Regions from separate parts of the Homo sapiens genome. Here region 1 is linked to region 2. The links come from fine-mapping of genetic effects on gene expression. Tissue or cell type: whole blood. Region 2 holds a variant in brackets; the other region holds the start of a gene. All regions are shown on one strand. Distances are between the middles of the regions.

Region 1 (5,942 bases), 78 kb after region 2:
AGTCTCGCTCTGTCATCCAGACTGGAGTGCAGTGGCACTATCTCGGCTCATTGCAACCTCCACCTCCCGGATTCAAGCCATTCTTTTGCCTCAGCCTCCTGAGTAGCTGGGATTACAGACGCGTGCCACCATGCCAGGCTAATTTTTGTATATTTAGTGGAAATGGGGTTTCACCATGTTGGCCAGGTTGGTCTCGAACTGCTGAGCTTGTGATCCACCTGCCTCGGCCCCCCAGAGTGCTGGGATTACAGGTGTGAGCCACTAGCCTGGCCAATTTTTACATTTTCAAAGAAACTAAAGAGCCACTTATCTGGGAGGTTTAGTTAAATTAATGAACAAAAATAGCAATGAGCCAGAGTCCCAGAACTTTGGAACTTTTGAGTCACAAACACCCTAGTGTTTTGGCCTTTGAGTCAAACTTATGGTTTATCCCTGCTTCTGCCTCGTTGACAGCCAAAGCTTATGGTTCAGCAACACAGATTACAGTCCTGCCAGAGATGGTAACTGTGAACTGTGCTATTGAATTTTATGAAAAGCTGGATGTGTGACTGAGAAGTCTTGATAGTTTGAAGATGTCATTTCCCTCAGAATTAATTTATAAATTCCAATTAATATACATACGTGGTTATATGTTTTACTTACTATGAGGCTAGTTTTCATGTGGAAGAATAAATAGGTAAAAAGAACGAAAAATGCTTGACAAAAGGACTTGCACTTCCAGATGTTAAAAAATGTTATGCTATTAACAGCATGGTACTGGAGGAAAAGAGAACAGATATTGAAACAGAATAGAAACTTAGAAACAGAAACATTCATATGGAAGTACTGAAAATATCTTTTTTTTTTTTTGACAGTCTCGCTCTGTTGCCCAGGCTGGAGTGCAGTGGCACGATCTCGGCTCACTGCAAGCTCCGCCTCCCGGGTTCATGCCATTCTCCTGCCTCAACCTCCCGAGTAGCTGGGACTACGGGTGCCCACCACCACGCCCAGCTAATTTTTTTGTGTTTTTAGTAGAGACGGGGTTTCACTGTGTTAGCCAGGATGGTCTCGATCTCCTGACCTTGTGATCTGCCCACCTTGGCCTCCCAAAGTGCTGGGATTACAGGCATGAGCCACCACGCCCAGCCAGTGAAAAGATCTTTAAAATTGGTGACAAAGAAGGGATTAGTCAATATATTTTGTTGGGATAATGCCTCATAACACCTACACAATAAATTCCTCAGATAAGTTAAATATGTAAATATGAAAAATTAAAAAGAGTTTAAAATAATCTAAGATTACATAATAAAAATAAAATATTGATAGATTTGACTAAAAAGGAAAAACGCATGTGTACACATATATATCACAGTGGACCCTTGAACGACACAGGGGTTGGGACGCTGACTCTGCTATGCAGTTGAAAATTTGCAAGTAACTTTTGACTACCCCCAAACTTAACTACTAATAGCCTACTATTGATCAGAATCTTAACTGATAACATAGACAATTAACACATATTTTGTATGTTATATATATTATATACAGTACTGTTACAATAAAATGAGTTAGAGGAAAGAAAATGTTATTAAGCAAATAACAAGGAAGAGAAAACATTTACTATTTATTACATGGAAGTGGATCATCATAAAGATCTTCATACTCGTCGTCTTGCAGTGAGTAGGCTGAGGAGGAGGAGGAGGAAGAGGAGAGTTGGTCTTGCTGTCTCAGGGGTGGCAGAGGCAGAAGAAAATCTGCATGTAAGTGGACCTGAGAGGTTCCAACACATGTTGTTCAAGGGTCAACTCTATAATCCATAAAACCAACTAAAAAATTAATACACCAATAGAAAAAAATAGGAATAGGTAACTCTTGAACAAAATTTTAAACCAGTATCTGAAAAATCTACATTATTTGTAATAAAAATAATTAAATACCATCTTCATTTATTCCATTGGAAAAGGTGAAAATTAGCAAGAATGCAAGGTCAGTTGTTCTCTTACACACTGCTAAGGGGAGTATAAAGTGGCACAACTTGCCCTGTCATATTATTCCCATTTTATAATTGAAAGTCCTGGAGTTTACAGGGTAACTCGCCTAAGGTTCCTTTGCTTGTAAAGGTAAAAGTGATTTGAATCCAATCTATCCAACTTTAAAGGGTACTAATGCAAGCCAAAAACATTAAAAATATTTCTACATTCTGACCCCAAAATAGCATTTCTAAGAATGTGCCTAAAGACATTAACAGAAATGAACACAAAGATGTGTGCCATAGCAATGGTCCGAATAGCAAATAAATTGGACAGATAAAATTTCCAGCAATAGGAATTGGCCAATGAATTACAGTAATTTATATTTAAAATAAAATACTATGTAGTAATCAAAAATTGTATCTAGACAAATAACTATGTAGAGAGAAACAGTCATGGATATGGTTAACTGCAAATAAATTTAAAATAGTATGATTCAGATTTGTGGAAAGAATAAAATAAAAGTAGAATGAAATGCTTGGTTACACAAAGGCTGGGAAAGCATATACTAGAAGGCAGAAGTGGCAATCTCTGTTTGGAGGAATTAATGTTTTTTGTTTGTAATCTGCCACTCTTAAATTTTTCTCAATGAAAGAATTTTATCTTAATATCAGAAAAGTTAGAGTTTTATAGAGAAAAGGTAAAAAGTGATATTTACGGATTATTGCTGGAGAGGCTTTTGGTCCATCTCTTCCAGAAGAGAAGATCAAAGGAGAGAGCACCCCTCCTCCCCAGGCAAATCCGATCAGTGGATGTGGTTCTGGTTCCTTTGTTTTATCTGAAAAATGGAAGATATCACCTACAAATCTGGAATCTTGGTTTCTCTTGAAAAATCAAAAGTTCTGGTGATACTGGGTTCATATTTCTGAATGGCAGCAACTGAGCAGTGGCTGCCCCATTGAAAGACAGCAAGACTGGGAGCCTCACAGTACACAGGAAGCATAAGGTAAGTTTGAAACAGGGTGGATCTCAGACAGCTAACGTTTGCACCTCTCAAAGGAAGAAGATTCTGACAAGTGTGACAAATACCCATGTATGTACATACATGTTTACCATAATATATCTTTGGAACATTTAATTCTTCCTTAGTTACCTTTTTTAAGCTCCTAGAAGAAATAACACTAACTAGAAAAAAAATTTCCTATATCAATCTTAAGGCAGATATAATAATAATGTATTAGAATTTAGACATTGAATTCAAAGTCAAGGACTCAAAGCTTTGCATCTCAGAAGGTTCTAGTGTCTTGAGGCTTCATTTTCTTTGTAGCTACATCATTGAACTAAAATGCACAAACCTTTATTTAGCAGACATTGGCTGAATGTAATTCTCGTTACATAGCTCAGTGTGTACGTGATAGTGCAGGTGATAGCTGAACATTTTATAGCTCTGAGTAGTGGCAAGAACTTACATTATTAAAATATTACAACTATTTTTTTGGAGTTACTCATTTGTTAGAACACATGAAAGGTGACTTCTGTATCCACCTATATTGCTCAGCTGGTAGAGTCAAGCTGGGCTCTCTTGATCTGTTAACACTAAGTGCTGGTCTGACTTTGTAGGCCTCTTCAGGAAGAAGGGGATGCAAGGTAGTGGATCTTCTTAATGCAGTGTGACTCAAAGTGAAACTTGGAAACACCCTTGCAGGGCGTGCGATGGGTGTGACTCGCTTCTTCAGTACCCTGCAGCTCAAACCCCTAGAGGGAGCATGCAGACGGGCAGGTCATGGGGAGCATGGGCTCCTACCCCATGGCAGCACCTAGGGTTGAGTGTTTACAGCTCCAGAAGCCCCAGTGGGAGTGTGTTACAGTGCAGTCTTTCAGCTTAGCCATCCGCAGGTGGCTTGTGTTAATCAGCTCAATTAGATCCTCTGCCTTATCGCAAGGACAGAGGGCTTTCTGTATCCCAAGGTTCTTGCCTTAATGTACCAGAAAAATTGAATCACATGTAGGCTTGGAGAATGGGTGCACAGTTTTATTGACTGGTGGAAGTAGCTCTCAGCAGATGGATGGGATCCACAAGGGGAATGGAATGGGAAGGCGGTCTTCCCCTGGAGTCAGGCCGCTCAGTGGCCTGACTCTCCTCCAACCACCCCCAGGCAAATTCTACGTGGTCCACATCATACTGCTGTTGATGTCCTGCCAGTCTGTCAGTGTATTCTGCCAGTGTGTTCCTCTTGATGTCCAGCCGCTTGTGTCTGTGCCCGCTAGGGTCTCAGGGTTTTTATAGGCAGAGGATGGGGGTGTGGCGGGCCAGAGTGCTTTTGGAAAATGCAACATTTGGGCGTGAAAACAGGAGTGCCTGTTCTCACTTACGTCCATGGGTACAGGCCTGAGGGTGGAGCCCTAGCCAGGGACCCCATTCTTCTCTACCCAGCACTTCCCTGCCCGCCTCCCGTATCAAAAGCAAAGCACAGATGGGAGGTGTGGAGACACAAAAAGGCATAGGACCCTGTGTTTCTCATGAGTGACAAATGCTCATGCTTCTGCCAGCCCTAGGTTCATGTGAGGACGGGCCAGAATGTTCAAACTTTTGTTTATGCAAAAGCACTCTATTTATTTATTATTATTATTATTATTATTATTATTATTATTATTATTTTTGAGATGGAGTCTCCCTTTGTCACCCAGGCTGGAGTGTAATGGCACGATCTCAGCTCACTGCAACTTCCACCTCCTGGGTTTAAGCGATTCTCCTGCCTCAGCCTCCTGAGTATCTGGGACTACAGGCACGTGCCACCACGCCCAGCTAAGTTTTTGTATTTTTAGTAGAGATGGGGTTTCACTGTGTTAGCCAGGATGATCTCGATCTCCTGACCTCATGAACCGCCTGCCTCGGCCTCCTAAAGTGCTGAGATTACAGGCATGAGTCACCACGCCCAGCCCGAAGCACTCTTTTTAGAGTTGGCCCAAAAGGTAAAATTCATACCAATTGGTAGGCTATAGTCCATCATTAAATATGAGTCTGTGTGTCTGAATTTGTGTGTATGTGTGTGTGTTAGAGAGAGATAAAGAGAGACAGACAGAGACAGAGAGCAGTACTGAGCAAGAGAGTGAGTGAGCATGGGGAAGAAAGTAAGGAGGAGAGGAAAAGGTTATGTGAATGATTAACAAGTAAAAAATAATGTTACTGAAACACCAGGGGTTCAGTTTAGGTCCTGCTATTTGCTGCACAGAAAGCCAACGACTGAGACAACAAGTATTGCCAAGGAAGAAGGCTTTAATCAGGTGCTGCAGTCCAGGAAATGGGAGCTCAGTCTCAAATCCATCTTCCTGATCAACTAAAATTAGAGGTTTATATAGCGGGGAAGAAATGTTAAATATGTATGGGAAAACAAGAATGTGGAAGGAGTAAGGGAGCAATTACAATGAATGAGAGGCTGGTATCTCATTGTCTGGATCTGGTGAGTTTCAAGCTTTAAAACCAGAAGGATTAATTTCTATATTTAAGAAAAACTGTCTATGGGACTACTGGATCAGTTTCAGTAAGATAGGCATATTAGAAATAAAGACTGTAAGGATTATAATAGCACATAGCTTTCCTCTTTAGATTGTTCCAAGGTAAACTTATTTTTAAAAATCCTTACATTCCAATCTTAACTGCTGCCTACTCACTTCTACCATTCTTTGATTACATATGGGAACAAATGTGGCACACCAATATAAAGGTGAGAGTAGTTGGAAGAAGAGGAAAAATATTTATTCATATATTAGGTCATCCAAAAAGCTTAAGATATGAGAAAATTCAGTATTTCTATAACCAGGCCAAAAACTAACTTGTCATTTCAAACTCCTTGGCATTTGGAAGCTTGAAAAATGCTTGCCTGGGCACCTATTCCTGGTAAAGTGCTAAGGAGAGACGCCTAAGGAAATTGAGGGGTCAGCCTGATGTTGGCTTAATCCTGGCTCCATTGTCTTCTGATCACATCACCCTTC
Region 2 (5,942 bases):
GGTCATCTGCCTGCCTCAGCCTCCCAAAGTGCTGGGATTACAGGCATGAGCCACCACTCCCGGGCAATTTTTAAAATCTTATTGAAGACATCCACTCATTCTATGCAACATGTTGTTACATGTTAGAGGCAAGGCATTAAGCATCTGTAGGGTGGTGAGGAATTCACTGTACCTCAAGAAGGTGAAAACTCTCACCACTCCATCCCTGGGATATAGTCTAAGTTTTAACAGAGAATATAGGGCACCATGATTGTAGGGAGATCTCTGAAGTGAGAGATGCAGGCTTGGGGTAAGACAGACGGTGGAAGCCAAGCTCAGTGGCTCAACCCTGTAATCCCAGCTACTCAGGAGGCTGAGGCAGGAGGATCTCTTGAGCCCAAGGATTTCGAGACCAGCCTGGGCAACATAGCAAGACCCCATCTCAAAAAAATAAAAATAAAAGAGAGAAAAGGGAGGAATAGAAAATATAGACCTTGATAGGACCTTCCCATCTAAAGGCATTTTTTTTAAAAAATTGAAAACACTGCGCAAGCCAAATACAACCTTTGTGCAGGTTGATATTTGTCCTCAGGCTGCCATTCTGCAACTTCTAGATTCAGTAGACTCAGCCCCTAAATAAAATAGGGTATGTTGGTCAAGCAGTGTTGAATTTAGCAAGTGTCAGGATGTGCTGGGCACTGGGGATAGATACACCATTGAGAAAGACAATAAAATGGGCTTGAATCTACCTTCAAGGTCAGCCCATGTCTGTGTCATGCTTGGAGCCAAACTTCACTGCAGTTTCCTTGTAGCTCACCTTGTCATCCTGTCATGGCCTGAGAGAGGCTGTCATTCAACTTCAGCCATAGGGATGTATACCTTATAAGGAAAAGAATCTGTAAGAACTTGGTAAGTTTATTTGGGAATAAAGGACTAAAAGGAAGAAGGAGTAATTTGGGGAAATAAAGGAAAGTTTGTAAGGAACTAAAGGTACATTCTAATGAAAGGGAAGAAATGATTACTGGAGGATAGGAACTAGGTTAGGCAAAATGACTTGTGCCAAATTGTTACTTACTCTGCCTGTGTTTTGATGTAAGTAGTTAATTAATAGTGATTGTAGAAATGGGCAACTGTTCTTTGACTTCTTTTATCTCACTGGCTTTAGCGTTTTAATGAACAGTCCTTAGAGAGAGAAAGATATCTAGCAGGCTGTTGTCATTTCAGTGATAGAATAAATATTTTGCAGTTATTTCCAGAGATGGGTAGTGTAAAACTATTTCTTCAATAGTTTGCATGAACCTTTCTTTTGTTTTTGTTTGTTTGTTTGTTGAGACACAGTCTCATTCTGTTGCCCAGGCTGGAGTACAATTGCATGATCTTGGCTCACTGCAACCTCCGCCTCCCAGGTTCAAGCAGTTCTCCTGCCTCAGCCTCCCAAGTAGCTGGGACTACAGGCATGTGCTACCACACCCGGCTAATTTGTTTTTTTAGTAGAGACAGCGTTTCACATTATTAGCCAGGCTGGTCTCGAACTCCTGACCTCAGGTGATCTGCCCATCTTGGCCTCCCAAAGTGCCAGGATTACAGGTGTGAGCCACCGTGCCCGGCCCACATGAGCCTTTCTTAAACTTAAAAAAAAATTAATTTGAACATGTAACCCAGGAAATGTTCATCCCACCATGCTGTGTAGGTATTTTTAACACACTTAAATCCCTTTTCTGTTCCCAAAAGGCCCTGGTCTATCTTCCAAAGCTAATAAGTCATGTTGATATTTTGATAATAACATCAAGGGGCACCTTAAACTATAGTTCTTACCTTGTGAAATAGTTGGAAAGAGGGAGAGTGCACTGAGTCTTGTTAGACCCAAAAAGTACTTATGCAGCCATTGTTAAGAGCAGAACAGATAGAACTGGACTCTGGGCAGTAGCCAGTTGGGCATGCAGGATGAGTCACTGTGTTTCCAAGGCGAGAAGCAGTAGCAGATGAACACAGGTCACAGACATCAGGACCTGTACCAGCAAGATCAGCCAGCAATGAGGAGACCTCAAAAATGCCGCAGCCCTTATTCTCAACAAGCGATTAAAGACAACCAGATCTCCTGGGGCAAGGCAGATCCCCTGAGGGAGAGAAGAGTATGTGTCCCTTCTTGAAATGTTCAATGCAAGTTCAAAATGTTCCCAAGTGATGTTCAGACCAAAGAGACAGCCCACAGGCCATAAATGTGCAGCTCCTGTGCATTAAGTGGGCATGCTGAATTCAGTCCAAGGCCATTCTCTAACCTGAAGGATTTGAGTACAGTGTATTTCAAAAAAACTGAGGCACCTCTGAAAATATAACTTAACTGCGGAATTTCTAAAAACTCAAAATAAATCGACAGCTCTTTAATGAAGTAGAATTTTATTACAGAATTTCACAAAGAACTTAATATCTAAGTGTAAAGATAGAAAGCATTGAAATTCATTAGCATCT[A/G]TAAATACAAGATGATTTTCTCATACCTACCTCTACCACAACCCTAAATCAAAACAATTTCTTATGAAGCTTCAGTTTTCCCAGAGGTAAATTCCAGTACAATATTTGGCATGCTATTAAGTGAGTGGGTGCTGAAATCCTACTTCGTTTTCCTTTTCTTTCAAAGAAGGAAAATAAGGACTGTGCATATCGAAAATCAGCGTTTCTAGGAAGTTGAAAGTTTGGGACAGTCTTCTTGGACACTCAATCCTAAATACATGAAAGGCAGCTACTAGCGCAGCCAAGGCTGTAACACAGTCGTCCACCTTTGTGAGCCTCTCCCTTTCTAAATATAAAGAAAATTCGCAGACCTCCATGTTGAAAGGGTTTTTAACTTCCAACACAGGTGTGGACACTTGCACCTGAAAAAAAGAGTGGAGTCATTACCATGATACGTAAAATAGCTAAATAATAAAACATCTGAACTTAATCATGGTATTACAATAAATCAGCTTGTTGCAATGTAGCATATTTGTAAATATGACAAACATACTTCAAAATAGACCACCAACTTTGCTTTTAAATAAGTTATCGCGGTTGGGCTCAGTAGCTCATGCCTGTAATCCCAGCACTTTGGGAGGCCAAGGCAGGTGGATCACCTGAGGTCAGGAGTTCCAGACCAGCCTGACCAACACCGTGAAACCCCGTCTCTACTAAAATACAAAAATTAGCTGGGCGTGGTGGTGCATGCCTATAATCCCAGCTACTTGGGAGGCTGAGGCACGAGAATCGCTTGAACCAGGAGGTGGAGGCTGCAGTGAGCCAAGATCACGCCATTGTACTCCAGCCTGGGCAAAAGAGTGAGACTCCATCTCAAAAATATAAGTAAATAAATAATATAAATAATCGCATGAAGATGTAAAATGTCAAACTAGTGGCCATTCACATACTACATACCTGTTCATTCATGATGACAAAAAGGCTGGGATCATCCCCAAAAACATCTGGGAGGAGTAAACATGTGGCTGTCATCTTCATGTCTGTCAAAGCAAATATGTTAACATGTGAAGTAAAAATAAGCTTTTAGCAATTGTAAGCTAAGCTAGTATTGAAACATCTGGATTTTTTGTTACCTTGGACAGAAAACAAACTAGCCTTCTTAGATCAATGTTTCACACCTTTTTAAACCATACCCTCTTCTAATAAAACATTCAAAATCTCGTATCTGCCCTCCAGAGCACTTCCAGAAGACAAGAGTTCTGTACTGTCTGTCCATCAGCCAGGAAGAATTTATGCTGCCCCTTGTGATTTGTATTGTAAAATTAACTGGTTACTAGTTCCCTAAATATAATTTTACAATATCCAGTATACTTTTAAAATCTATACCTCTCCTCCTCCTCTAATTGGAAAAATTCTTTTTTTTCCCCACCAGTTGTTTCACTTATTACTTAAATATTGAAAATTATTATTAAATATATTTTAGTAATGTAAATTTTTAATTTTTAAATATATTTTTAAAACTCAATAAATGTAAACTACTGAATTTTACTGACTACCAAAGCATAACTTTTCTAGATATTCTGATAAATAACAGATGAAATCACACCACTCCATAAGGTTTACTAACATTTCAACATGTCTTCATCTGTGTAATGTTTCATTTTTTCTTGCAATACAATATTGATTGGATTGTCCACCACTGAAAAAGAAGTCAGTATATTTTCTGAATAGGATTCCAAAATGTGCCTTGTTTTCTTATAAATATCTGTTCTTGTAAGAAGTTGGAATTCTCTGAACATCTGACAAAAGAAGAAAGCAATGGATACATCAGATCACAAGAAAAGCTAATATATAGAATGTAAAGACATAAAACCTTTAGAATTAAGCTTTGAATGCTGGTTTACACTAAGTACTCAATATTTTAGAAGTTTTAGTGGAGAATTAAAGCCTTAGGATGAGGGAGGAGAAAAGAATGAAAGCCTGAAATGAATTTGAAATGATAAATAATGGGCATGGCAAATTTCTAAACCTACAGAACTAAAACTTTGGATGCAGACTCAACTAAATGAGGATTCAAAGGGTGTATGCATATGCAGGCTATTTGGGTTACCCAGCTAAGGTTCTAAGATCTTACATTTCTTTAGGTGACTACATTGTTATGTCTTGTTCAACAAGCAGCAAAGAACAAAACTGTTAGATTTTAGGAAGCAAGCCCTGACAAATACTTAACCATAGTATCCTAAATTTAGGTAAAGGAGAGTGCTTTAGAAACTAAGAGTAGACAGAGGTAAACAGTGAAAAACGATATATGGCTGGGCACGGTGGCTCATGATTATAATCCCAGCATTTTGGGAGGCCAGGGCAGGAGGATCACTTGAGCCCAGGAGTTTGAGACCAGCCTGGGCAACACAGAAAAACCCTGTCTCTACAAAACACAAAAATTAGCTGGGCATGGCAACATACGTGTATAGTCTCAGCTACTCAGGAGGCTGAGGTGGGAAGATTGCCTTAGCCCGGGGAGATCGAGACTGCAGTGAACCGAGACTGTGCCACTGCACTCCAGCCTGGGCAACGTAGTGAGACCCTGTCTCAAAAGAAAAGAAAGAAAAAGAAACAATGTATGTGCAGATTTGACTACAAGTTCAAAGCAAAACCAGTTTACTTTATGGAAGTCCCTTTCCTCAAACTACCCCATCCTACCACTGCCTGAACTCTTCCCCCTCAGAGGATTCCACCACCACTCCCCCTCCTGTTTTTGACAGTGGCATTATCAGATTATTAGCCACCCACACTCCAGTGAATTAATTTAGTCATTGCTTTTCCTAAAACTATAAAGAACAATCACATACTACCCACTGGGCCTCATTGTTCCTTGAATGTTTTGGTAGATCATAAATTGCCTAGAGATTAGGTCTGAAAGTTAAGTTGTCAGAAAGCTGGAATGCATAAGGCATAGTGGCTTTGTTACCAGGCAACCCACAGTGGACCACTAATCTAGATTAATACCGTTAGAAAACCGTTTTCTCAGCAGGAAGATGTGAAGGGAAGGATGAAGGAGGTGAATACGCCACTGTTCTGGGCTCATAGCCTAAGAATTTCTTTTCTGACTTTTTATGTTTTGAAATAATTTCAAGTTTGCATTAAAGTTGCAGAAATAGTAAACAGAACTTACAAGTGCCCTCTGTGCAGCTTCCCCCAATTTCTGATCCAGTTGAAAATGAGCTGTAGATACAATGCCCCACTATTCCTTAATACCTCATTGTGTATTTCCTAAGTACAAGAGCACCCAAATTCAGGAAAATCTACTACACATTCCATTCAAATTTGCCAGTTGTTCCAGTCATATTCTTAACAGGCCCAGGATCTAATCCAGGATCCCATATGAGATTTAGATACCACGCCTCTCTAGTCTCCAGTCTGAAACAACTTGTTAGTTTCCTTGACGGTTTCTGAAAAGTGGAGGCCAGTTACTTTGTAGAACATTTCTCCTTGGAAGTTTTATGATATTTCAAGAT

Evidence for each region. PIP is the estimated chance that this variant, and not a neighbour inherited with it, causes the effect.
Region 1: it holds the start of SAMD3, and the variant in region 2 is fine-mapped to the expression of SAMD3 in whole blood (TOPMed, PIP above 0.99).

What each region holds. Positions count from the first base shown.
Region 1 is chr6:130,220,027-130,225,968 of GRCh38, forward strand. SAMD3 (sterile alpha motif domain containing 3) reads right to left here and starts at 2,925. Exons shown (of 12, transcript NM_001017373.4): 1 at 2,668-2,925. RefSeq lists an enhancer at 3,532-3,641.
Region 2 is chr6:130,141,956-130,147,897 of GRCh38, forward strand. SAMD3 (sterile alpha motif domain containing 3) reads right to left here. Exons shown (of 12, transcript NM_001017373.4): 10 at 4,055-4,226; 11 at 3,385-3,467; 12 at 2,360-2,849. The coding sequence ends at 2,565. Among named protein-coding and RNA genes, the nearest start is that of SAMD3, 78 kb to the right of the region's middle. The variant A/G (reference allele first, on the strand shown) is at 2,449.